4 linked regions of the Homo sapiens genome follow. The protein of the gene in region 3 interacts with the protein of the main gene of each other region in a pairwise test. Each region holds a gene or a part of one and is shown on either strand. Other genes may lie near its edges. The genes, in order: PRPSAP2, CCDC198, TEX11 and TIPIN.

The links.
Region 1: the proteins of TEX11 (region 3) and PRPSAP2 interact in binary tests that used the Homo sapiens proteins (3 or more experiments, as listed by UniProt).
Region 2: the proteins of TEX11 (region 3) and CCDC198 interact in binary tests that used the Homo sapiens proteins (3 or more experiments, as listed by UniProt).
Region 4: the proteins of TEX11 (region 3) and TIPIN interact in binary tests that used the Homo sapiens proteins (3 or more experiments, as listed by UniProt).

What each region holds. Positions count from the first base shown.
Region 1 is NC_000017.11:18,875,085-18,882,132, forward strand, and holds part of PRPSAP2 (phosphoribosyl pyrophosphate synthase-associated protein 2), read left to right. Parts: intron 1-2,613; coding exon 2,614-2,786; intron 2,787-7,048. UniProt on the Homo sapiens protein: Seems to play a negative regulatory role in 5-phosphoribose 1-diphosphate synthesis.
Region 2 is NC_000014.9:57,490,838-57,498,302, forward strand, and holds the start of CCDC198 (factor associated with metabolism and energy), read right to left. Parts: upstream 3,021-7,465; 5' UTR 2,879-3,020; coding exon 2,656-2,878; intron 1,203-2,655; exon of another isoform or gene 235-1,202; coding exon 152-234; exon of another isoform or gene 147-151; coding exon of another isoform or gene 105-146; intron 1-104. UniProt on the Homo sapiens protein: May be involved in tuning the metabolism, energy expenditure, and excretion processes.
Region 3 is NC_000023.11:70,548,686-70,555,733, forward strand, and holds part of TEX11 (testis-expressed protein 11), read right to left. Parts: intron 6,116-7,048; coding exon 5,966-6,115; intron 4,730-5,965; coding exon 4,621-4,729; intron 3,562-4,620; coding exon 3,441-3,561; intron 1-3,440. UniProt on the Homo sapiens protein: Regulator of crossing-over during meiosis. Involved in initiation and/or maintenance of chromosome synapsis and formation of crossovers.
Region 4 is NC_000015.10:66,335,691-66,339,685, forward strand, and holds the end of TIPIN (TIMELESS-interacting protein), read right to left. Parts: intron 1,492-3,995; coding exon 1,268-1,491; 3' UTR 501-1,267; downstream 1-500.

The sequences.
Region 1 (7,048 bases), on a different chromosome or scaffold from region 3:
TGTCTTTTGTCAGTTTCATATTCCTCTAATCAGAATCACTCAGCACCCCTTTCATTTTCTCTCCGTGTCTCATTTTGCATTGTTCCATACCTGACATAAGCTTGTGTTAACTCGGGTTCTCAGTCTTGTCCATGTTGCAGAGTCTGGACGTCATGGTCTTCTTTGTGAAATACCATGAAATAACATTTAGTGTTGAGGGCCAGATGTGGTGGCTCATGCCTGTAATCCTAGCACTTTGGGAGGTCGAGGTGGGCATATCAGTTGAGGCCAGGAGTTTGAGACCAGCCAGGCCAACACGGTGAAACCCTGTCTTTACTAAAAATACAAAAAATTAGCTGGGCATGGTCATGAGCGCCTGTAGTCCCAGCTACTCAGGTGGCTGAGGCACGAGAATTGCTTGAACGCAGGAGGCAGAGGTTGTAGTGAGCTGAGATCACGCCACTGGATTCCAGCCTGGGTAAAAGAACAAGGCTCCATCTCGAAGTAAAAAAAAAAAAGGCTGGGCGAGGTGGCTTACACCTATAATCCCAGAGCTTTGGGAGGCCGAGGCGGGCAGATCAGGAGTTCAAGACCAGCCTGGCCAACATGGTGAAACCCTGTCTCTACTGAAAATACAAAAATTAGCTGGGCGTGGTGATATGCGCTTCTAATTCCAGCTACTTGGGAGGCTGAGGCATGAGAATCGCTTGAACCCAGGAGACAGAGGGTGCAGTGAGCCAAGATGGCGCCACTATACTCCAGGCTGGGTGATAGAGTGAGACTCTGTCTCAAAAAAAAAAAAAAAAAGCCTGTAATCCCACCACTTTGGGAGGCCCCAGGCGTGCAGATCACCTGAGGTCGGGAGTTCAAGACCAGCCTGACCAACATGGAGAAACGCTCTCTCTGCTAAAAATGCAAAATTAGCCGGGCATGGTGGCGCATGCCTGTGATCTCAGCTACTCGGGAGGCTGAGACAGGAGAATTGCTTGATCCTGGGAGGCGGAGGTTGCGGTGAGCCGAGATCATGCCATTGCACTCCAGCCTGGGCAACAAGAGCAGAACTCCGTCTCAAAAACAAACAAACAAAAAAATGATTTAGTGTTGTCAGATACATCTTATACTTCATTTTACTACAGATTAGTGCTAGCACTAAAAATAAAAGAGAAATTTAAAATTAAGAAAATTCCATCCATTAACTGAAGTTTTCCTGTATTTCAAACAAGACTGTCCTTATCTGAGTTCAGTAATGGAAAGCCTTGTTCCTCCACTCTTATCCTTCCCATAGAATACTTTTCTGAAAATCTTTTTTTTTCCTAAGTTAATTAACAGGGTGAAAGTCTCTTTTAACTCATCAGATGTCAGACTTGTTGTATAGTGACAGAGAACCTACTCACCTGAATGTTCTGTGTTTCCATTCACTCCTTCTTTCATTAACAAATACTTATTTTGAATGTCTACAATATGTGAATTACAGTTAGTTACACGTATGCAGGATGCCTCCATGATTAAAACAGAGAAAGTCCTTGTCCTTGTGGAGTTTATATTCCAGTGGAGGAAGACATAAAGTGAGCATAATAAAGACATAGATTATCTAGAAGGTGATGAATGGTTTGGAAAAAAATAAGACAGCATGGTGAGATGATAGTGGTGAGAGGGCAGAGAGAGGCAGACAGGGTAGGCCTCATTGTGGAGGTGACATTTGAACAGAGACTAGAGAAGGTGAGGGAGAGTCAGGTGACTAGGTGGGGAGAAAAGCATTGCAGGCAGTGGGAACGCCTAGAGCAAGCCCCTTAGCGGTGTGAGCTGCTGTGGGAGGACTGAACAGGGTCAGGTGTGGCCAGGCAGGAGGGGAGGGGCAGATCCTCAAGTTTGGACTGGAGTTGTAAATTTGAGAGTTGCCACCATCTATGAAGCTGTGAAATTAGATGAGAAGCCCAAAGGACGAGAGGGAACAGAAAGAGAGGACACATGAGCAAGTCCTGGGACGTGAGGCTGGGGAGAAGAGGAACCAGCAAAAGAAACCAAGGGTGGAAGGAGGACACCAGAGAGGGGCATTCTGGAAGCCAAGTGACCGTGGACATGGCCGCATGGAGGCCACTGATGACCTTTATGAAAACAAAGCTTCACTGGACTATTTGGGAGAGACTGAGAGTAGATAAATTGGAGATAGTGTAAGATGTACAGCAAAGGGGAGCAGAGGGGAGAGTGGTTATGAGTCGTGTTAATGGAAGTAACAGAATGTTTGTGGCCGATGGGTTATCAGTGGTGGAGGCAGGAGAGGAGAGAGAATTCCTTACATAGGTGTGCCATTTGGAGGGATTAATTTTAGGGCCACTGGCATGGAAATTTCCTCTGACTGATGACTGAGGGCAGGCCGACTCCTGGGGCACAGATGCACATAGTGGGAGCTTGTGGACACGCTCCTCTGAGAGTACTTAAGTAGGGTGGTCAGTTGAGAGCAGATGATGGGGGATCTTATGGAGGCCTGAGAAAAGAGGAATTTATTGGTTGGTTTTTTTCTGCCTTGCACCTTAGGTTGTATAAAGGCATGAGTAACACACTGCTGACACTTTTTGGAACAGGGAATACTGTGTTGTAGATCCCTTGATGAGATTTGCTGTGTCTTTGTTACAGGGACGTGAACACCACCATCATGGAGCTCCTGATCATGGTGTATGCATGTAAGACCTCTTGTGCCAAGAGCATCATTGGCGTGATACCCTACTTTCCTTACAGCAAGCAGTGCAAGATGAGAAAAAGAGGCTCCATTGTCTCTAAATTGCTGGCTTCCATGATGTGCAAAGCTGGTAAGAATGGCAGATGTTTCACAATTAATTGGGGGCCTGGGAGTTTTATTTATTTATTCTCTCTTTTTTAAGACAGGGTCTTGCCCTGTCACCTAGGCTGGAGTGTAGTGGCGTGATCATAGCTCACTGCAACTTGAACTCCTACAGTCAAGCAGTCCACCAGAGCCTCCCAAGTAGCTAGGACTATAGGCACATACCACCCTGCCTGCTAATTTTTAAATTTTTTGTAGATACTGGGTCTTACTATGTTGTTCAGGCTGGTTTTGAACTGCTGGCCTCAAGGGATGTTTCTGCTCCAGCCTCCCAGGGTGCTGAGATTATAGTCATGAACCACCATACCCTGCTGGAGTTTTATTTTTACCTTAGAAATATCAAAGTAATGGCTGGGCACAGCAGCTCACGCCTGCAATCCCAATGCTTTGGGAAGCTATGTGGGATGATCTTTGAACTCCTGGGCTCAAGTGATCCCCCTGAGTAGTTGGAACTATGGACATATACCACCGTGCCTGCCTAGATAGGCATATATTGGAAAAGATACATATTATTCTGTGTCAGGCATTTTCAGGTAACAACCTAAGTATTTTTCCTGTGTTTCTAAATAACCTTCATAGTTGTTATTGGGTATTTGTGTCAATATATTTGTGTTTGTGTGTGTGCGCGCTTGTATAAGTGTATATGATTTTATTTATTTATTTATTTATTTTGAGATGGAGTTTCGCTCCTGTTGCCCAGGCTGGAGTGCAATGGCATGATCTTCGCTCACCACAACCTCCACCTCCCCGGTTCAAGCGATTCTCCTGCCTCAGCCTCCCAAGTAGCTGGGATTACAGGCATGCGCCACCACGCCCGGCTAATTTTGTATTTTTAGTAGAGACAGGGTTTCTCCATGTTGGTCAGGCTGGTCTCAAACTCCCGACCCCGCCTCAGACTCCCAAAGTGCTGGGATTACAGGCGTAAGCCACTGCACCCGGCCTATGATTTTTTTATTTTAATTTTTATTCTGTTTATTTATTTTTTGAGACGGAGTCTTGCTCCGTTGCCCAGGCTGGAGTGCAGTGGTGGCACCTCGGCTCACTGCAACCACTGTCTCCTGGGTTCAAGCGATTTTTGTACCTTAGCTTCTCTAGTAGCTGGGACTACAGGTGCCTGCCACCACACTCAGCTAATTTTTGTATTTTTAGTAGAGATGGGGTTTTGCCATGTTGGCCAGGCTGGTCTCGAACTCCTGACCTCAAGTGATCCACCTGCTTTGGGCTCCTAAAATTCTGGGATTACAGACACAAGCCACCATAGCCAGCCTGAATGTATATGATTTTAGAAGGTATGTATCACGGAGCATTTGCACAGAGTGAATAGAATAAAAGTCCCCATATCACTGCATTTTAAGACAGGTACTTACTGTAGAATAAACCTTTTTTTTTGTTTGTTTTTTGAGACGGAGTCTTGCTCTGTTGCCCAGTCTGGAGTGCAATGACGTGATCTTGGCTCACTGCAACCTCCACCACCCGGGTTCAAGCAATTCTCCTGCCTCAGCCCCCAGAGTAGCTGGGATTGCAGGCACACACCAACATGCCCAACTAATTATTATTATTTTTATTTTTTATTTTTGAGTCTCACCTGTCATCCAGGCTGGAGTGCAGTAGCGTGATCTCGGCTCACCGCAACCTCCACTTCCTGGGTTTAAGCGATTCACCTGCCTCAGCCTCCTGAGTAGCTGGGATTACTGGCGCCCACCACCACGCCTGGCTAATTTTTGTATTTTTAGTAGAGACGAGGTTTCACCATGTTGGCCATGCTTGTCTCGAACTCTTGACCTCAGGTGATCCACCTTCCTCAGCCTCCCAAAGTGTTGGGATTACAGGCGTGAGCCACCACGCCCAGCCCAGAATAAACTTTCTAAGATAGTTTTTCAGTAAAGGCAAACGTAAAACAAACATTTAAAAACTAGGCAGGGTGTGGTGGCTCACGCCTGTAATCCCAGCACTTTGGGAGAACCAGGGGGCGATCACCTGAGGTTGGGAGTTCAGAGCAGCCTAACCAACATGGAAAAACCCCGTCTCTACTAACAATACAAAATTAGCCGGGTGTGGTGACACATGCCTGTAATCCCAGCTACTCGGGAGTCTGAGGCAGGAGAATTGCTTGAACCCGGGAGGTGGAGGTTGTGGTGAACCAAGATCATGCCGTTGCACTCCAGCCTGGGCAACAAGAGCAAAACTCCGTCTCAAAAAAATAAAAATAAAATTAAAAACTCAACCCGAAGCAACCTCAGGAGCCTACCCCATTGTAAACACTATGACAGGCAGCTGGTGAGGAGAGCAGGCTTGCCTGCTGAATCTTCAGGAAAGGGCCCATCTTCTCTACCAGCCTTGCTTGATGGGCCTCCAGACTTACTTTCCTGTTCTTTTGGGCAAGTAATGCTTTAAACAATTTTTCATACTGAATTTTCCTTACACTTTTCTGGTGATCGTTACAAAGGTGGTGAAGGTTTTCTGTTTTCTCCAATTTCCAGGCTGGTGCAGTTTGTCTTGATATCTTTTTTTTTCCCCATGGGTCTCAGTCCTCTTGCCCGGGCTGGGGTGCAGTGGTGTGATCACTGCTCACTACCAGGAGGTAGCCTTGACCTCCTGGGTTCAAGTGATCCTCCGACCTTAGCTTCCAGAGTAACTAGGGACTACAGGCATGCATCACCATACCTGACTAGTTTTTTGTATTTTTAGTAGAAATGGAGTCTCACCATGTGGCCCAGGCCATTTTCAAACACCTGGGCTCAAGTGATACTCCTGCCTCGGCCTCCCAAAGTGCTGGGTTTACAGGCATGAGCCACCACACCCGGCTGACTTGTTATCTTAAGACTGGACTTTGCCATGCCTGTTAAACTTCAAGAAGATTTGATCTGCTCTAATATAATTTTTAAAGACTCTTCTGTATTACTGTTATCTTTGCTATATTATGACTATTTTTTATTTATTTATTTTTTCGAGATGGAGTCTCGCTCTGTCGCCCAGGCTGGAGTGCAGTGGCATGATCTCAGCTCACTGCAACCTCCACCTCCTGGATTCAAGTGATTCTCCTGCCTCAGCCTCCCTAGAAGCTGAGATTACAGGCACATGCCACCACACTTGGCTAATTTTTGTATTTTTAGTAGAGACGGGGTTTCACCGTGTTGGCCAGGCTGGTCTTGAACTCCTGACCTCAGGTGATCCGCCTGCCTCAGCCTTCCAAAGTGCTGGGATTACAGCTGTGAGCCATCGCACCTGACCAAGACTTTAAATTGATGTGAAAATCAGGCATCTCACAGTACTAAAAAAAAAAAAATTTTTTTTGAAAAATACAAGTGCTGAGTTTTTTTGATGGTAGAACAATTTTGTCTTTTTTTTTTTGAGACCAAGTCTCCCCCTTTCACCCAGGTCGGAGTGAAGTGGTGCGATCTCGGCTCACTGCAACCTCCGCCCCCCCAGGTTCAAGCGAATTCTCCTGCCTCAGCCTCCCGAGTAGCTGGGATTATGGGCACGTGCCACCATGCCTGGCTAATTTTTGTGTTTTTAGTAGAGATGAGGTTTCGCCATGTTGGCCAGGCTGGTCTCCAACTCCTGACCTCAGGTGATCCACCCGCCTCGGCCTCCCAAAGTGCTGGGATTACAGGCGTGAGCCACCGTGTCCGGCCTTATTTTTTATTTTTTTGAGGCAAGATCTCACTCTGTCACCCAGACTGGAATGCAGTGGCTCAATCTCAGCTCACTTGCAGCCTTGACCTTCTGCACTGAAGCGATTCTCCCACCTTAGCCTCCTGAGTATCTGGGACTACAGATGTGCGCCACCATGCCTGGCTAATTTTTGTTTTGTAGAGGCGGGGTTTTGCCATGTTCCCCAGGCTGATCTCAAACTCCTGAGCTCAAGCAGTTTGTCAGCCTTGGCCTTCAAAGTGCTAGGATTACAGGCGTGAGCCACTGTGCCCGGCCATGAGAGCAATTTTTTTTTTTTTTTTGAGACGGAGTCTTGCTCTGTCACCCAGGCTGGAGTGCAGTGGCATGATCTTGGCTCACTGCAACCTCTGCCTCCCGGATTCAAGCTATTCTTCTGCCTCAGCCTCCCAAGTAGCTGGGACTACAGGCACACGCCACCACGCCCAGCTAATTTTTGTATTTTTAGTAAAGATGGGGTTTCATCATATTGGTCAGGCTGGCGTTGAACTCCTGACCTTGTGATCCACCCACCTCGCCCTCCCAAAGTGCTGGGATTACAGGCGTGAGCCACAGTGC
Region 2 (7,465 bases), on a different chromosome or scaffold from region 3:
AGTATTTGCGATTGATGACATTTTTCTTTAAGAACATTCTCATTAATAGCTTGGTCCTTATCAATATCCCTCTTTGATGATTATAGTTTAAAAAGGGATGTTACCATTTTATCCAAGAAATTCCTTATGAAGCCTTTTAAATTCATCTTACTTGAAGTCTTTGGGGTGGATGCCTTTTAATAATACTTGTTTCTCTGTGTTCCAGTGGGATGTCAAAATACATGTCTCTGGATGCTTGAAGGATTGGGGAAGAAACAGGAATAAAACATTAAATATAATTTACTATTAAATCAGGCAATCATTAGTTACTAGACTTTGTCAACACAATTTTGTACCTTTTCAGTTATATATGTCTAACCTGTGGGTTGAATGTGGAGATGAAACACAGAAAGCAGGGAACCTACATTAGTGCACATGACACTATTTTAGTCTGGACCCAGGATTTAATATCTGCTCTCCTAACTTCCTACTCAGGTTCATACTTAGGGGGAGAGTTACAAAATTACCAATATGTTGACTGCAAATATTTTTCAAACAGAATTTGGCCTGGAAAATAGAAATTTATTGACTTATTTTAATTCCATAAAATCTCCTCCCTGAAATATAAGACATCAGAAAAATATATAACTTTAAAAAATGAAAACAATCTTCTTAGATGAAATAGATGATAGATAGATAGGTGATTATACAGAGATGAGAAAGAAATGGAGTACGTGTGAACACAATTCAATAGCCCCTTTAGTGAAAAAAATTTCCACAGGTTGCCACTGTAATACAGCATATCAATATTCTTTCCTGATGAAACAAGCTGGGGATACAGAGTTAAGCCTCTATTAGGAAACAGAGAGGCTCAACAGATCCATTATGGATTTTATTTTCCAGCTTGATTATCCTGAGCTCTTGGGAGTGCTACCATGACCAGCGCTGCATGAATGAAGTTCTTGTCCTTCCCTTTTAACAATCTGGACACATTCTGACTTCTAGATTGTTTCATAGACTATTTTACAGTCCCACTTTGCATTTTAAATGGAAAAATCCCTGGGTAATTATGCATCTCTCTCCTTAAGACATGTGAATAACCACTTCAAGGACTTTGTTCTCTCTAACTTTTAGTGGGATGGAAACTATGTCCTTATTTTCTTTTGAAAAGATGCCAGCATATTGAGCAGGATGGAAACAACAAACATACTGGATTTAACAATGTAAGTATTTTCAGCTATTTTTTCAGAAGGCTTACTAATCCTTATTTTTTTTATTTTAGTGACATTACTCCATTATTTAATTAGATTTTCCTCAACTGGCATAGGCTGTGTCAGGCATTTATTTTTACCCCTGATTACAAGTGAAAAAAATTGATGAAGTAACTTGCCCAAGGTCATTCGATTTGGTATTTGATGGAGCTGGGGTGAGAATATGGGAGATCATGAGGATTCTCATGATCTTGTTATTTATTTTTAAATGTGATTTTGTCACTTCAGACATAAGCTCACCATTTATTCAGTTACCTAAATCTTTTTTTTCTTTTAATTGAGACAGAGTCTCTCTCTGTCACCAAAATCTTAAAACTCTCAATGGGGGTTTGGATAAAAAGGGAATTCCTCAATAGGAGCATTGCATACTCTTAGTACACATTCACGCTCCATTTTTTAAATCATGTCTATCACCTATCCCTCTATCTATCATAAAAAAATTCCTAAGGGGAAAATTCCCATCCATGTGCTTAAGAACTTGAAGAACATAAAGAACATAAAAACAGGCCATATAGAAACAACCAAACGTTATCAATTCTGCAGACAATAGCCATGAAAAATCATTCCAGGCAAGATTTGCTAGGTACCAAAAGAGAATGTGAGGCTTTCTGAACAAGGCATCCAATAAGGGAAACTTATTTGTGTTATTGATCCAGAAGGTGAAGAAAAGGGAAAACAATATACATATATATATGTATATAATAAACATATATTTTTCTAAGTGAGAATGTCTGTTTAATTATCATTGTGGTCATCATAAAACATTTTACATGGCTTATAAAATATCCCAGGATTTATGGCCACTTCAGGCTCAGAGCTTCCAATCATAATGGGAAAGAATTCTGTTAGTTCTGCAGATGACCATGAAGAATGTGGGGTTGGGAAAAGGGTGACTCATCCACTCCTCTGTACTGCAATAAATCAATACTGTTTAGGGTGGTTTCAAAATTCATGTTAGAATTAACTCACTCTTAAAGTGTTGCTTTCAAAACCACAAAGTCTGGTGCATTAAACTATACTGGAGAGAATGATTTAAATTTAGAATCTAACTGAAACGCGATTGCTATCATTTATCACTAGTATCTATATAATTTTAATGGTCTGGCAAAACTAGGTATAAACATTGAAAGCATTACAAACTGAGCTGAAACAAAATGATTTATCCTTCTCATATGGAATAGTGAAAAGTCCTTTGTACAGTTTATACTCCCATTCTAATGAACCCAGAATACTTTCAACTGATGTTCAATCCTCATTGAAAGATTTGAGTTTTCAAAGATAGCCTAAATTCCTTTACATTTCAGGAATTTAGAAACTTTCTGAGATCATGGAGACAGTCAGATAAACCTATTAATAATGCTCCTTGGTCCAGATACACACATCTCATGCTGGGTTTTATGTTTACCTGTAGAATATCTTCCATACCAGTTTTCTTGTAAAGGTGGCAGCTGCCCTTCCAAGGCTTTATTCTGGTCCTGCAGTCTTGCCAGTGAATATGAAGTCTTTTCTTCCAAATTCTGATTGAATGCAAAGTCCACACGGCCAGCCGAGGGAGTCTCTACCTCTTTGTTTTGCAAAGGTGCTACTTTGATCACCCTAAGGTGAGTCTTAGAGTGACTCAGGCCCATTTCATGTGAAAGACATTCAGAGGAAAGCTGCGAGGGAAGTGGTTTTGGGGTCTTTAATATAGCTTATTTTAATCAAAGCATTTCAGAAGTTTACCCTCGCTTTACAAAGCAGTCATTTCCTTCATGGCATCCTTCTAGCTCTGTTTCACTGCACACTAACCCTTTTGGCCACTTCCTGGGAGGCTGGTTTCCATGGAGACTTCCCTTCAACTTTGCCGTTTCAGACCCAAAGAATCCAGTTAAACATTGACTTGGTTATGCTACTTTCTGAAATACTCAGTGATAGGAATAGAAGCCACTGTTGATCATTAAACAAATATCGAACACCAGGAAGGTTATTAACAGAGAGAGATGTAGAGCAGAGGTTTAGAGAAGTCTTAAACTTGACCCTTTCATTGCAAGTACCTTTGTAAAAAAACTAACTGCTGAGAATAGCTAAGCCATCTTTGCAATTAAGAGGATGCATGCTGATTGCCAAGGCTTTGTTAATCTTTAATTTAATTAAAGAATTTATCCCCCAAATAGGAAAGAAAGCAGCGGAGCGGCTAAAGCGTCATTTGATTTTTCTGTCGATGACTTGAGTTGCCTTTGAAGGGGGTGAATACATTGCAGGACAGGAGGATAATAGAAATTTTTTTCCTGGGGATAAGGGGAAAAAATTCTTGAATAAATGGTCTAAGTAAACCTTGAGTTTTTGAAGATAACCTATTTACTATGTTTTTAAACTAAATTAAATTAATTTATTTATTTTTGAGACAGAGTCTCACTCTGTCACCCAAGCTGGAGTCACCCAAGCCCAGCGATCTTGGCTCACCACAACCTCCGCCTCACCAGTTCAAGTGATTCTCCTGAGTCAGCCACCCAAGTAGCTGGGATTACAGGCACCTACTACCACCACACCTGTCTAATTTTTGTATTTTTTAGTACAGAAGGGGTTTCACCATGTTGGCCAGGCTGGTCTCGAACTCCTGACCTCAAGAGATCCACCTGTCTTGGCCTCCCAAAGGGCTGGGATTACACGCATGAGCCACAGTGCCTGGTCTATTATGATTTTTAAAGTAGAAAAAAAGACTGGAAGGAAATGTGCCGAAATATTGAGTAGTGATTTTTGAATGGTGGGATTATGGGTGATTTTTATTTTATTCTTTATACTTAGAAGTGGGACTAACTTTCAAGCTCTAATTGTTCATGAGCACAGATTACTTGTGTTTTCATCACATCTCCATAAAGAAATTAAAAGAAAATTTATTTTTCATCTTTGCAGAATCCATTTCCTAAGGGACTAAGGTGATGTTTGGAAAGTCTTGGTAGACAATCACGTTTATCTAAAAAGATGCCTGAATTTAGTTTTTTCCTTACTCTCTTTGCATTTTCCACATCATTTTCTCTGCAGCAGAGAGGTTTATAAGTAAAGACTAATATATTAACAGTATCTGCAAACACAACAGCCTCTGGTAAACAGACTAGCTTAATTACAAGGATAATAATACTTGAGTAAGGTCTAGTAAGATTTATTTTTTAGTACAATCAGTTTAAGTATTTCTAAGGGCAGGGGAATGTATTGCGAACTAACAAATGAACTAGACATTGTACTGAAAACTGTGGACTTCATGGATCTGGACCAGTAAGAGGGATTCAGCTCTTATGTTTTGTTTTATTATTATTTAATTTTCAGACAATATTTGTGGAGAACATGAGCCTTTGTTGAGGAAATTGGTTAGTTGTTGAAGGAATAATTAAAGAAATAAAGATGCATTTCTGTGCTTCTTTCTCTTTTCATTACTAGTGACTATCAAGCTTTGTGACTTTCCTGATCTGTGAAATGGGGTTAATAACAATACTTTGTGGGAAATGAACCTGATTCCATTTATAGCTCTTAGACTAATACCTGGCATGTAGTAAGCTCACAGTAATCATTAGCCAGTATCCTCCTCCTCTGAGGAAGTATTGCTACATATCTACATGTACATAGGATAGTCTTTATTGCCAGTTGGTCAGAAATTAAAATAGACATATTCCTGTCTAAAGGAGTTTGCCCCTAGGTATAGAAAAGACCAACGAGGGAAGCGTAAATTCATCTGGCCAATTTAACTGGGAAAACCACCATGTCTAAGGATTATCATTAGAAAATATTCATACACTGAAAGGATTTTATTAAAATTTGATAGTGAAACATTTTAATTTTATTAAAAGAGAAAAAGAGTTTAATTTCACTGATAGAGTTAGATATAAGATGTAATTTCTTATTACCAGAGTTGTAAAACATTAAAAAGCTCTCACCCAACTAAAACCTTGACTACTTCCCAAACACTTTGTGATACTTTATAATGACCACTCCCTAGTTCAAGAATGACTATGACTATACGTTATTGTGTGTAAAAATGATAAAACATGCTGTTATTTGTAACAGTCAGAATTCATGAATATGGAATGAGAATATTAATTTATAAAACTCTTAAGATTAGCTAAACTTTTCTAAAGCTGAAGGTAGCATCCAGAGAAAAATGTACTAAGAGAAAGTGGCGAGGCCCCAGAGGAGATGGAGAGAAGCAGGAACTCACAGCCAAGTGTACTATTTCTGCCAGGAAGAATCAAAGCCCTCAGCCTGGAGCATCTCCACAGGCAATGTGACCTTGAAGTTCCCAAGAAATAGCCGTGTACAAGCTCCTGGTGCTTGGACCTTTCTTGCCTTCTGTAGAAAATGCCTTCCTTCAAGACACAGAGTGAACCAAGCAATAAGGAGAAGGCAAAGTATAATGTCTATTTCAAAATATACATTCATTTTGAAGTTAAAAATCCTAGCTTTTGTTCTGGGTTCACTCCTAACTAGCCTTGGGGACAAAACTATTAAGGAATATTGTTTAGTGAATATAAGTTCTATAGAAACTCAATACACATTCATTATGAGATATGTGGATTTTTCTGCTCTCTAATAAGAGAAAGTTTTACACTTGAATGATGGGAGGCAAGATCCAGGTCTTTAAGTGTGAGTCTGCTATCATACTTAAGAGAGTAGGTGCTCTCTAAGTTTCCTTACAACCTCCTATAGCTTGATTTACACTGTAATATCTATTTAGAGCCAGCATAAGGAGAGAAGCTTTCCTTCCTGTGTGGAAACATTACCTACCTTTTTCCATCAGATTGTGATTTGATAGCTCTTGCCTTAGTTTTGATGGATTTCCCAGAGTCATCTACAATCTCTTTCCCCATACCTTGGTAAGATGACTGCCTGGAGATAAGGAAAATGCCTGGGATGAACAAAGACATCTATTTTCTGCAAGTAGCTTACCAGCTAACAGGAATTCATGACTGCAGTAGCACTATGTTCTGAGAAGCTACCTAGAGAAAACCATGCAAACACTTGAGGAATAGTAAATCTTAAAGTTTAAACAACCTAATATCGGATAAATGAGTTTCTTTTTTTAATGAGCTGTGGGTAATTTCGTTTGGATGTTTTATATTAAGCAAGTGACAAAGGCTAAGGTGATATTCCTTAGGACTGGATGGTGGTAGTCTGGAGTCGGGTTGGTTAAATTGCCTTTTGATCCTTCAGCATACGGTTTTCTTGGAAAGGCTTCAGAAGGGATTTAAATCAACATGTGTATAAATATTCCATACAGTTGGACTTCATTCAGTCAGTGGGGCTTAAATTCTAAATGTTTATAGGTTCTTAAATTAGGCTTCTAATAAAGTTACAGCCTTTTTCTGCAATGGATCTGTAATGGATAAGCAATCACTGGAGGCTTTTCAGCAGCAGTGTGAATTATAGGTTTGCATGCTAACTAAGCAGAGTTGATGTATGACCCGAACCTTAATTTTCCTTCCAGTGATTATTTTCCTCCCGATTTATTTATATATTGATGTAAAGGTGACAGTGTAATCAGACCTACTGGGTTTGGAAGTGCTCAAGCAAAACAAATGGAAAAAATGTTAACTGAAGCGTCTTGTATAACCTCTTCCATGAGATCAGTTGTATACGATTTGTCTCTTTACCCTTTGAATGCAATCTGCAAGTACATCATTGAATGAAATGCTAGAATCATGCCTTCGCACACTATACTACTCTGAAGACAGCCAGTGCGTGGGTTTCTTAAAATGTATTGCCAATGGATTTAACCTAGATAAAATAATATTTGTATATTGTATCTCTAAAAGGAACATCAACCTTTGGTTATCATAATCCTTTTTATCTTTTAAATTTTTATTTTATTTTAAGTAGACAAATACCTGTGAATGTTTATGGGGTACAGTGTGATGTTCCGATACATGTATACCTTGAAAATGATTAACTCAGGGTAATTATATCTATCACCTCAAATATTTATCATGTTTTCTTAGTGAGAACACTTAACATCTTCTCTTTTAGATATTTTGAAATGTACATTATTAACTGTAGTCACCTTGCTGTGCAATAAAACACAGAACCTATTCCTCCTAACTGTAACTTTGTACCCATTGACCGATGTCTCATCTCTCCCTGCCCACCCCCTATTGCCTAATCCCCCAACTCCACCTCCCCATCCCCAGCCTCTGGCAACCACCATTTTACTCTCTACTTCTGGGAATTTGACTTTTTAGATTCCACAT
Region 3 (7,048 bases):
ACTGATGCTCATGGAGGGAGTATTTAGACCAGCCCTAGCTAGAGAGCAATTGTCCATCCCAGTAGTTGGAACTTGAGTTCCAACAAGCCTTGCCACTGAGAGCTAAAGTGCTCTGGGGTTCTAAATAAATTTGAGAGGCAGTCTAGGCCACAAGGACTGCAACTCCTGGGCAAATCTTTGTGCTGTGCTGGGCTTGGAGCCAGTGCATCTGGGGGACATGCGACCTAGTGAGACACCAGCCAGGGCAGCCAAGGGAGTGATTGCACGACCCCTCCCTCAACCCCAGGCAGTGCAGTTTGCAGCTCCAAAACAGACCCCTTCCTTCCACTAGAGGAGAGGAGAGGGAAGCTTAAGGGGGACTTTGTCTTGCATCTTGGATACCAGCTCAGCCACAGTAGGACAGGGCACTTGGCATAGTCATGAAGGTCCCATTCCAGGACCTAGTTCCCAGATAACATTTTGAGACACACCTCGGGCTAAAAGGTACCCACTGCCTTGAAGGGAAGGACCCAGTCTCGGCAGGATTCATCACCTGCTGACTAAATAGCACTTTGGCCCTCAGTGATCAGCAGCAGTAGCCAGGTAGTACATACTGTGGGCCTTAGGTGAGACTCTGAGACATGCTGGCTTCAGTTGTGACCCAGTACATTCCCAGCTGTGGTGGCTATGAGGAGAGACTCCTTCTGCTTGAGAAAAGCAGAGGGAAGAGTAAAGAGGATTTTGTATTGCAGCTTAGATATCAACTCAGCCACAGTGGGTTAGAGCACCAAGTGGGCTCCTAGGGTCCCCGGTTCCAGGCCTTGGCTCTTGGATGGCATTTCTGTACCTGTCCTGGGCCAGAGAGGAGCCCACTTCTCTGAAGTATGAGTCCCAGGCCTGGCAGCATTCACCACAAGCTGATTGCAGAGCCCTTGGGCCTTAAGTGAACACTGGCAGTAGCCCAGCAGAACTCCCCACACCACCTGATGGTGGTGGCCACGGGGAGAGACTCTTCTGCGTGTGGAAAGAGGAAAGAGTGGGAAGGACTTTGTCTTGTGGTTTGGATACCAGCTAAGCTGCAGTAGAATAGAGCACTAGGTAGATTTCTAGGGTTTCTGACTCCAGGCCCTGGCTCCTGCATGTCATCTCTGGGGCCAGGGGGAAGTTGCTGCCCTGAAGGGAAGGACAGCCTGGCTGGCTTCATCACCTGCTGACTGTAGAGCCCTAAGGCATTGAGCAAACATAGGTGGTAGCCAGGTAGTGGTTACAGTGGGCCTTGGGTGAGACCCAGTGCTGTGCTGGCTTCAGGTCTGACCAGCACAGTCCCAGTGGCAGTGGCCACAAGGGTGCTTGTATCACCCCTCCTCCAGCCCCAGGCAGCTCAACATAGTGGAACAGAATAGCAAACCCAGAAATAAATCCATACATCTACAGTGAACTCATTTTTGACAAAGGTGCCAAGAACATACTTTGGGGAAAGAAGAGTCTCTTCAATAAATGGTGCTGGGAAAACTGGATATCCATATGCAGAAGGAGGAAAGTTGAGATCCCTATGTCTTGCCTTATACAAAGATCAAATCAAAATGGATTAAAGACTTAAATCGAACACCTCAAACTATGAAACTACTACAAGAAAATATTGGGAAAGCTCTCCAGGATATTGGAGTAGGCAAAGATTCCTTGAGCAATATCCTACAAGTATGGGCAACCAAATCAAAAATGGACAAATGGGATCACATCAAGCTAAAAAGCTTCTGCACAGCAAAGGAAACAATCAACAAAGTGAAGAGACAACCTGCAGAATGAGAGAAAATATTTACATACTACCCCTCTGATAAGGGATTAATAACCAGAATATATACAGAGCTCAAACAACTCTATAGGAAAAAAAATCTAATAATCGAGTTTTAAAATAAGGAAAATATCTGAATAGACATTTCTCAAAAGAAGACAAACAAATGGCAAACAGGCATATGAAAAGGTACTTACTATCACTGATCATCAGAGAACTGCAAATCAAAACTACAGTGAGATATCATCTCACCCCAGTTAAAATGGCTTATATCCAAATGACAGGCAATAATAGGAAGTGCTGGTGAGGATGTGGAGAAAAGGGAACCCTTGCACACTGTTGGTGGGAAAGTAAATTAGTACAACCACTATGGAGAACAGTTCGGAGGTTCCTCAAAATACGAAAAATTGAGTTACCGTATGATCCAGCAATCCCACTACTGGATATATACCCAAAAGAAAGGAAATCAGTATATCAAAGAGGTATCTGCACTCCTATGTTTGTTGCAGCACTGTTTACAATAGCTAAGATTTGCAAGCAACCTAAGTGTCCATCAACAGATGAATGGATAAAGAAAATGTGGTACCTATACACAATGGAGTACTATTCAGCCATAAAAAAAATAAGATCCAGTCACTTGCAACAACATGGATGGAACTGGAGGTCAGTATGTTGAGTGAAATAAGCCCAGCACACACACAAAAAACAAACTTCACATGTTCTCACTTATTTGTGAAAGCTAAAAATTAAAATAATTGAACTGCTGGGGAGAGAAAGAGTAGAGTGATGGTTACCAGAGGAGGGGTGGGGGAAATGTGGAAATGGTTAATAGGTACAAAAAATAGAATGAATAAGATCTGTACTTAATAGCACAACAGGGTGATTATAATCAACAATAATTTAATTGTACATTTTAAAAAACTAAAAGTATAATTGAATTGCTTGTAACACAAAGGATAAATGCTTGAGGTGATGGATACCCCATTTATCCTGATATGATTATTATGCATTATATGCCTGTACCAAAAAATCTCATGTACCCCATAAGTATGGGTACATGTACACCGCTATGTACCCACAAAAATTAAAAATAAAACATTTTTAAAACTAAAAAACACTGGATTGTAGTGATAGTTGCACAACTCTATAAATTTACTGAATTGTGCACAAGCCATGGGTGAATTTTATGATATGTGAATTATACCTCAAGAAACCTAATTTTAAAACAACTGAATAAACCTGCACAGAAAAGAAAAAGAAATCAGCAGAGGAGGGACTAGAATACAGGTCTTCAATGTTCCTTCTACTCTTCTGAGAAAGGATGCTTCTGAGAAAGGATGGGAATAGCAATAACTTTTTTCAAAAGGTTCATATCATCACAGAGAAAGTAATCATCCCACCATGATTTGAAAATATAAAATAATTCAAAATGCCTGGTGGTACTGCTACTTGGACCTAATCCATAATACACTTGTGTTAGAAAATGTCTACTTTCAACTATTTATATTTCAGAAACCCAGGAAAATTCTGTAGTGTGTAACTACAAAATTGTAATATGAATTTATCCTAAAACTCATATCAGAAAGCATTATTGTATATAATTTATAGTACACAAGACAGTTCAGTTCTTTAAAATTAACTGAAAGTTTAATATCACTATTTGACTTACAGTGCGGCTAATGTGGCTCAGAGCATCTTCAAAATAGCCCCAAACTTCTTCCAGGGGACAGAGCTCTACATTCGACGCCCCATCTGGCACTGAGAGGTTAACCAAGTTGTGCATACATTTGCTGAAAATCAAAAAGAGAAAACTCATCCCATAAGGAAAGAAATCATTGGCTTCATGGCTAAGATAAGTAAAACCTGGATCTCATCCCAGACTAACAGCTTCAAAACACTTCTGTTCTTCCCTCGGTTTTATCTGGCCTCCAACCTCAGAAGACAGATTTTTGAAGCTGTAAAACAGGTTGACCAATCCTTTCTTTTTTCATGCCTATGGTTGTCTTTCATTCTTTTTTTAGTTTCCTGCACGAAGGAGTTGTGGCTGTCTATTATATTTTATGAGCTGGTTCAATTTACAGGCATTTTAAAGCATCTCGGTACTTCCTCAAATGGGCAAGGGAACTGGGGTTTAAAGTGGAATGATTCCACAAGAACTGTCTTTCGTGCCTTAACACAGGAAGACTGTAATGATGTTTTCCAGACAAAAAAAGTCACACAACATCTATTTTTCCCCATGTCTGGACACAGAAAACAAAAAAGTCTCCAATAGATAATATTTTATACAGCACTTATCGGTGCTTAAAGTGCTTAGAAAAATAATGAGGCAAACATAGCAAGATGTTAACATTTGTTAAATCTGGGTGCTGCGTGCCTGTAATCCCAGCTACTCATGAAGCTGAGGTGGAGAATCATTTGAGCCCAGGAGTTTGAATCCAGCCTGGGCAACATCACGAGACCCCATCTCTAAAAATAAAACAAATAAATCTGGGTGGTGGATACGTTGGTGTTTGTTATATTAACCCCTGTGCTTTTCTGTACATTTGGAATATTATTTAGTGATGAAACAAAGAAAGAAAGGTACTTAGCAGTTTTATTATATACACAGATTCACACAAAGAAGCAACTTTTCCCCTTTTTTTTCTCCTTTGGGAAAACCAAGCTCCTTGACTTTGCTAAATAATTATTGGTCTGTAATACAACTCTCAGTATGGAGCTGTTCACAAGAATGCCCCCAGATCATCCCCATATCATCTTTAAAGTTGAGTCAATTAAGAACGATTGGTTACTTTTGAGGCATTGACTATAGTTCTTTTGGCTAGCAAAAAGGCTGGATTGTATTTACTAACCTGTATTGTGATATATCAATTGGTTCTTCCTTTTTGTAGAGCAATAAAGCCTTTTTCAAGGCCTTGAGAGCAATCAAAGGATAGTGTGCAGGCTTTTCCATTGCTATTACTAGAGTAAGAAAAGGAAAAAGGTTGTGAACATGATAATGTCACCCATCACAGTTTTCATCCCAGGCTACCACTTGCTTTCTCTAATGAAACTGGGCTGAAACAGATGAACAAAAATAAACAACAATGAATTTTATAAATGATAAATCTACAGTCGCTTTTGGAAATAGCTTCTACTTTCTGGGCAGAGTAGCATGGTGGGATTACCAGGTAACATCCTTTTTTCAGCAAACATCAACAGAAAACCTACTGTTTGTATGACCTTGCACACAGTCATACAGGTGAAGCAATAATCTTATGAATGACAGTCAAGGAAGGGCACACTAAGAAGGAAACAGAAAGCAGATCAGTAAAAGGGCACTAATTGAAACAGGTTTGTACTAAAATGTCCTATTTTTATCTGATACTAAAAATAGGAAACACTTGACAAGGGAGTATCAGAGGTAACTAACCCTAAGACTTCCAGATGCATTTAACAGATTTTTAGAATTGGAGTTCCATTATACAAGGAGCAGTGGTTGCTGTCACATGTCCATAAAGTATATATCATCTGCTCCATGGCTCTAGGAATTCTGTCTTGGCAAGACCAAGGAAAGGCAAATGTGACTCTTGTGCACTTGGAGCTACCTAATATTTTTATTAACCACACACATGCTCCTGAAGAGGGTGAGAGATAAAAAGGGAAGATAATTAGGCTGTTTCCTGCAGTGTACTCCCAAAAAGGCTCTATGCCCCCAAACCCACGTAAAGTTTGGCCTGAAATTTGAGAGTGGCAATTGTGTTAAAAAATATTACCAGTATTTCTCTGTACATTTCAACAAACAGCTAAGATTGCATCACTTTTGATTGTTGAAGCACTCAGTTATTTCTAGCTAGCCCAGAAAAACTTTCTAAAGTTTGAGCTCCCCCTGTTGTGTAGTTACATAATTAAATTCCACACAGAAAAAATTTGAGCACCTATTAGGAGCAATGAACTTCGCTAGGGTTTGTAAGTACAAATTAAGTAATTATTGTTTATGACCCTAAAGAGATTATAATCTCATAGAGTGAAGAAGATAAATGCACAAATGATCATAATACAAAATAGTCTAAGAATGGCATTAGAGAAGGAGAAACAAAGTGCTATGAGAAAAAATTATTTCCTACCTGGAGGTAAGAAAGAAGAGTAAAGAGAAGAAAAAAAGTCATACGATCTAAATGGGCACCAGCCTTACAAAAGCATAAATATAGCTCTTACTTGCAATTGTTTCAAAAGTTTTAGTTTCTAAATGAGGCAACTCCCACACTGATTCCAGGAAGCTTTCCAGTAATGGATCATTCAATTTGGCTCTAACTTCAAACTCGTACAGCAGAAGCAATTTCTCACATGAATCATTTGAGAAGGTCCCTAAGAAAGAGGCAAAAATGCAACATTCTTTGTGATTATATTATATTATTCTCTTTGGTTGTAATTTCACTAACTGGAGAGGTTTTCCTTCTAAGAAATATTAATTTTACTTACAATTTGAAGGTCATCTTCACTGCTGTAGACAGATTCTAAATTTTATTTTTGTTTTTTATTTGATTCTAACATTTTAAAATCTCTAAGCTAACCGCTACTTCCAACATTCTGTAGCGCATTCACTAGAACTACCTATATTTTCTCAAACAATTGCCACGATGCTTCTAAACAGCCTGAGAAAACCCTGCTGCTATTATTGATTCTAAATCAAATCCAGTGTTTACTTGCTTCTTGTGAACTTTCAACTGGGCTGGTGCTCACTCTAATGGCCGAGTTAACCAGAAGATACAGTGCTGTATAAACCAACAGTGACTTTATTTTAAGCAGAATAGAGGAGAGTTTCCAAACTGTTTCATTAGTCGACAGAATTTCTTGGGCATCAGCATAGAAAGAATTTCATGTCAGGTGTCATACACTAAACTATGTGAGACACTTTTCATTCATCCTTCTTGGTAGATTGAACATTGAAAAATGTTTTGAGGTATGACATATATACAACAAACTGAAAGAAGTGCTCTAACCTTAAACAGCTTGATGAGTTTTTACATGTGTTTAAACCCGTGTAATAACTACCTAGATTGTGATAACAAACACTTCCAACAATACAGAAGGTTCCTTTGTGCTCCTTTCCAGTCAATACCATCCAACCAAGGTAGCAACTATCTTTGCTTTTCTGCGTTTATGTTTTGCATCTATTTTCATGAGGAATCTTGGTCTGCAGTTTCTTATATTGTCTTTGTCTACTACTGGTATCAGGATAATAGTCTCATAAGATGAACTGGGAATTGGGCCCTCCTTTCAGGATGAGTTTGTATAGAG
Region 4 (3,995 bases), on a different chromosome or scaffold from region 3:
CTGTGGGTAGGGGTGAGGGGGTGGGGTGGGAGAGCCTTTCCTAACACTAACCTTTCTTATTTGTAACTACCCCCTCTACCTGGCAGGAAGAACTCCAATCAGGTGTTCTCACGATTTGGCCCTAACACATCTAACCTCAAAATCAGCATTCCTAAAATCTGCCTTATCCCCTTAATCTTATTTCTGTATCATTATTGTACATGTGCTTCCCAATACTTGGAATCTCCTCCACCAAAAGCAAAGTCTTTCCTGTAAATCCTCCCGAGATGCTATGTTCCCCACGATACTTTGCAAGTTTCACTCCAACTAGTCAGTAAGTTCCCAAAAAGCATTCTTTGAACTACCCTAGCACCTATGAGGGCCAGGCAATGTATCGGCCTTTCATGTGACCTTTTAACTATTAAAGTAACTCCTTAGAAAACATGTAAAAATCTTGTATTTACCAAAAGTGTAAACTGCAGAACTATATAGCAATGAAAACCTCCCATAAAGCCTGTAGATAGTTTTTAAGATAATTTTTACTTCTTTTAAAAAATTGACATTAATATTCAGTATATATGTACATCTCAAAACTTCACCCAGGCTGGGCGCGGTGGCTCACACCTGTAATCCCAGCACTTTGGGAGGCCGAGGGGGGCGGATTACCTGAGGTTAGGAGTTTGAGACCAGCCTGGCCAACATGGTGAAACCTCATCTCTACTAAAAGTACAAAAATTAGCCAAGCGTGGTGGCACACGCCTGTAGTCCCAGCTACTCGGGAGGCTAAGGCAGGAGAATTGCTTGAGCCCAGGAGGCAGAGGTTGCAGTGAGCCAAGACTGTGCCACTGCACTCCAGCCTGGCCAACAGAGTGAGACTCTGTGTCAAAAAAAACAAAACAAAACAAAACAAAAAACTTCAACTAGACTACTCTGGGCACACTGTCCATGGATTAGCCCTGCTTTGCAAGGAGCAGTAAAAAACAGAAACAAAACCTCCCAACTTAGTGAAAACAAGGCATTCAATGACAGACCAGCAGCAGAAACTGCTTATTACCTCCTAATCATTTTATGAAGAAATACCTATATAAAAACAAACACTAAAGAGAACAAATAGATTTAACTAAAGTGACAAGCATAATTATAAATAAATACCAGATTATCAGATTTTAAACAATAATCTATAACAGTTTTACTATCTAAGGATTTTCACTCCAAGAAGAAAAAATACATAGTAACGCCAAGCTTGCAGGACGATGACTTAACAGATACATTTTCTCTTAATGGAAACTTATCTAGCTTCAGTAATATTTCTGGATGTAGCATCAAGTTGCTGTTGCACATTTTTAAAAGACTGGTCCAGCAGTGTTTCCTCTTCATTTAAAGTATTGGCAATAGCATCATTACATGGATTGTCCAGAATGTCTTCGTTTAATCCATTTGACTCCTCCTTTTGATCCTCATCAGTATTAACCTCTTCAACCGTGTGTGCCCTGGGTGTATTCATTAACATATCTGAAAGAAATCATACCATTATTATTCATTATAAGTACCTGATCCAATCTTACCGCATGAGTACAAACCTCTTCAAAAGCTCAGTTTAGTAAAATGAAGTCTAAGATCACTTAATGTTAATTATGATCACTTTCTTCTAAATATATCTTTTTTTTTTTTTTTGAGATGGAGTCTCGCTCCATCACTTTGGCTGGAGTGCAATCGCACGATCTGGGCTCACTGCAACCTCCACCGGGTTCAAGTGATTCTCCTGCCTCAGCCTCCCGAGTAGCTGGGATTACAGGTACCCGCCACTACACCCGGCTAATTTTGGTATTTTTAGAAGAGACAGGGTTTCACTATGTTGGCCAGGCTGGTCTCGAACTCCTGACCTCAGGTGATCCACCCGCCTCAGGCTCCCAAAGTCCTGGGATTACAGGCGTGAGCTACCACGCCTAGCCAATAAGCCCATTTTTATACAATTAAGATCCATTTTAAATGCAAGAGAGGCCAGGCCCGATCCCAACAATGTGGGAGGATCATTGGAGCTCAGGAGTTCAGGACCAGCCTGGGCCACATAGTGAGACCCCATGTCAACAAAACATCAAAAAAAATAAAATAAAAAAAAAAATAATTAGCTGGCTATGGTGGCGAACCATGATCGTGCCACTGCACTCCAGCCTGGGTGACAAAGTGAGATCCTATAACCAAAAAAAAACAAAAAAAAAGCAAAATGGTTTTGAATGTTATTCAACTCACACTCTTGGATCATAGTCAAATGTAACTGTTCTTATTCAAAATCAAACTACTATTGGCCAGGCACAGTGGATCATGCCTGTAATCTCAGCACTTTGGGAGGCTGAGGCAGGCAGATCACTCAAGGTCAGGAGTTTGAAACCAGTCTGGCCAATATGGTGAAACCCTGCCTCTACAAAAAATACAAAAATTAGCCGGACATGGTGGAGCACGCCTGTAATCCCAGCTACTCGGGAGGCTGGGACAGGAGAATCGCTTGAACCTAGGAGGCGGAGGTTGCAGTGGGCCGAGATCAGCAACTGCACTCCAGCCTGGGCAATACAGTGAGGCCCCATCTAAAAAAACAAAACTGAAAACTACTAGAAAGAGGTCTAATAAAAACCAAGTGCGTTTAGGTTTTATGTCAGAGTGATCCATAAGAAACTTTAAAGTACTTATTTCCATTTGGACAAATTTTAAGTTGTATATGATAAACAGAGGTGAGCTTTAAATACCAACTGCCAGGTATACTTGATATTGACAGCAAAGAAGCCACTGCCATCAAGAATAATGCTATCTTCATGTAATGTTTCACATGGTACTAATAAAACATCCATTTATAAAGAAAAAGTAAATTGGCCAGGTGCGGTGGCTCACACCTGTAATCCCAGCACTTTAGGAGACCGAGGTGGGTGGATCACGAGGTTAGGGGATCGAGACCATCCTGGCTGATACGGTGAAACCCTGTCTCTACTAAAAATACAAAAAATTAGCCAGGCGTGGTGGCAGGCACCTGTAGTCCCAGCTACTCGGGAGGCTGAGGCACGAGAATGGCATGGACACGGGAGGCGGGGCTTGCAGTGAGCCGAGATCACGCCATTGCACTCCAGCCTGGGTGACAGAGCAAGACTCCGTCTCAAAAAAAAAAAAAAAAAAAAAAGGAAAAAGTAAATTCAGCTGGGCATGGTGGCTCACACCTGTAATCCCAGGACTTTGGGAGGCTGAGGCAGGCAGATCACTAGGTCAGGAGTTCAAGACCACCCTGGCCAACACAGTGAAATCCCTTCTCTACTAAAAATACAAAAATTAGCCAGGCATGGGGGCACGCACTTGTAGTCCTAGCTACTTGAGGAGGCTGAAGCAGGGGAACTGCTTGAACCCGGGAGGCAGAGGTTGCAGTGAGCCAAGATCACGCCACTGCACTCCAGCCTGAGCTACAGAGCAAGACTCCATCTCAAAAAAAAAAAAAAAAAAAAAAAAAAGCAAAAAGAAAAAGTAAATTCATCTTAACTGAAAAAAAAAGTAGCCAAAATAATTTTCACTTAAAAATGTTAATATATTGGGTGAAACTTCGTTTACAACATGGTATCTAGTTATTATAATTCTTTTTTTTTTTGTAGAGACGGGGACTCACTATGTTGCCCAGGCTGGTCTTGAACTCCCAGGCTCAAGTGATCTGCCCACCTCAGCCTCCCAAAGTGCTGGGATTACAGGCAAGAGACACTGTGCTGGGCCTATAATTCTTATTTTTCCATTTTGAAAGGAAAAACTGAATGGGAAATTAAGAAAGATATACGCAATCCTGCTTACTTCATTCAAAACCAACTTGCAATTCTTTCTAAATATAGTTTTAACAAATTTGGTTATATAGTTTCCAAACCCACAATGTGTGTTAAAAACAGCAAATTTAGGCCAGGTACACTGGCTCATACCTGCAATCCCAGCACTTTGGAAGCCCAATGCTGGAGGATTGCTTGAGACTAGAAGTTCAAGGCTGCAGTGAGTCAAGA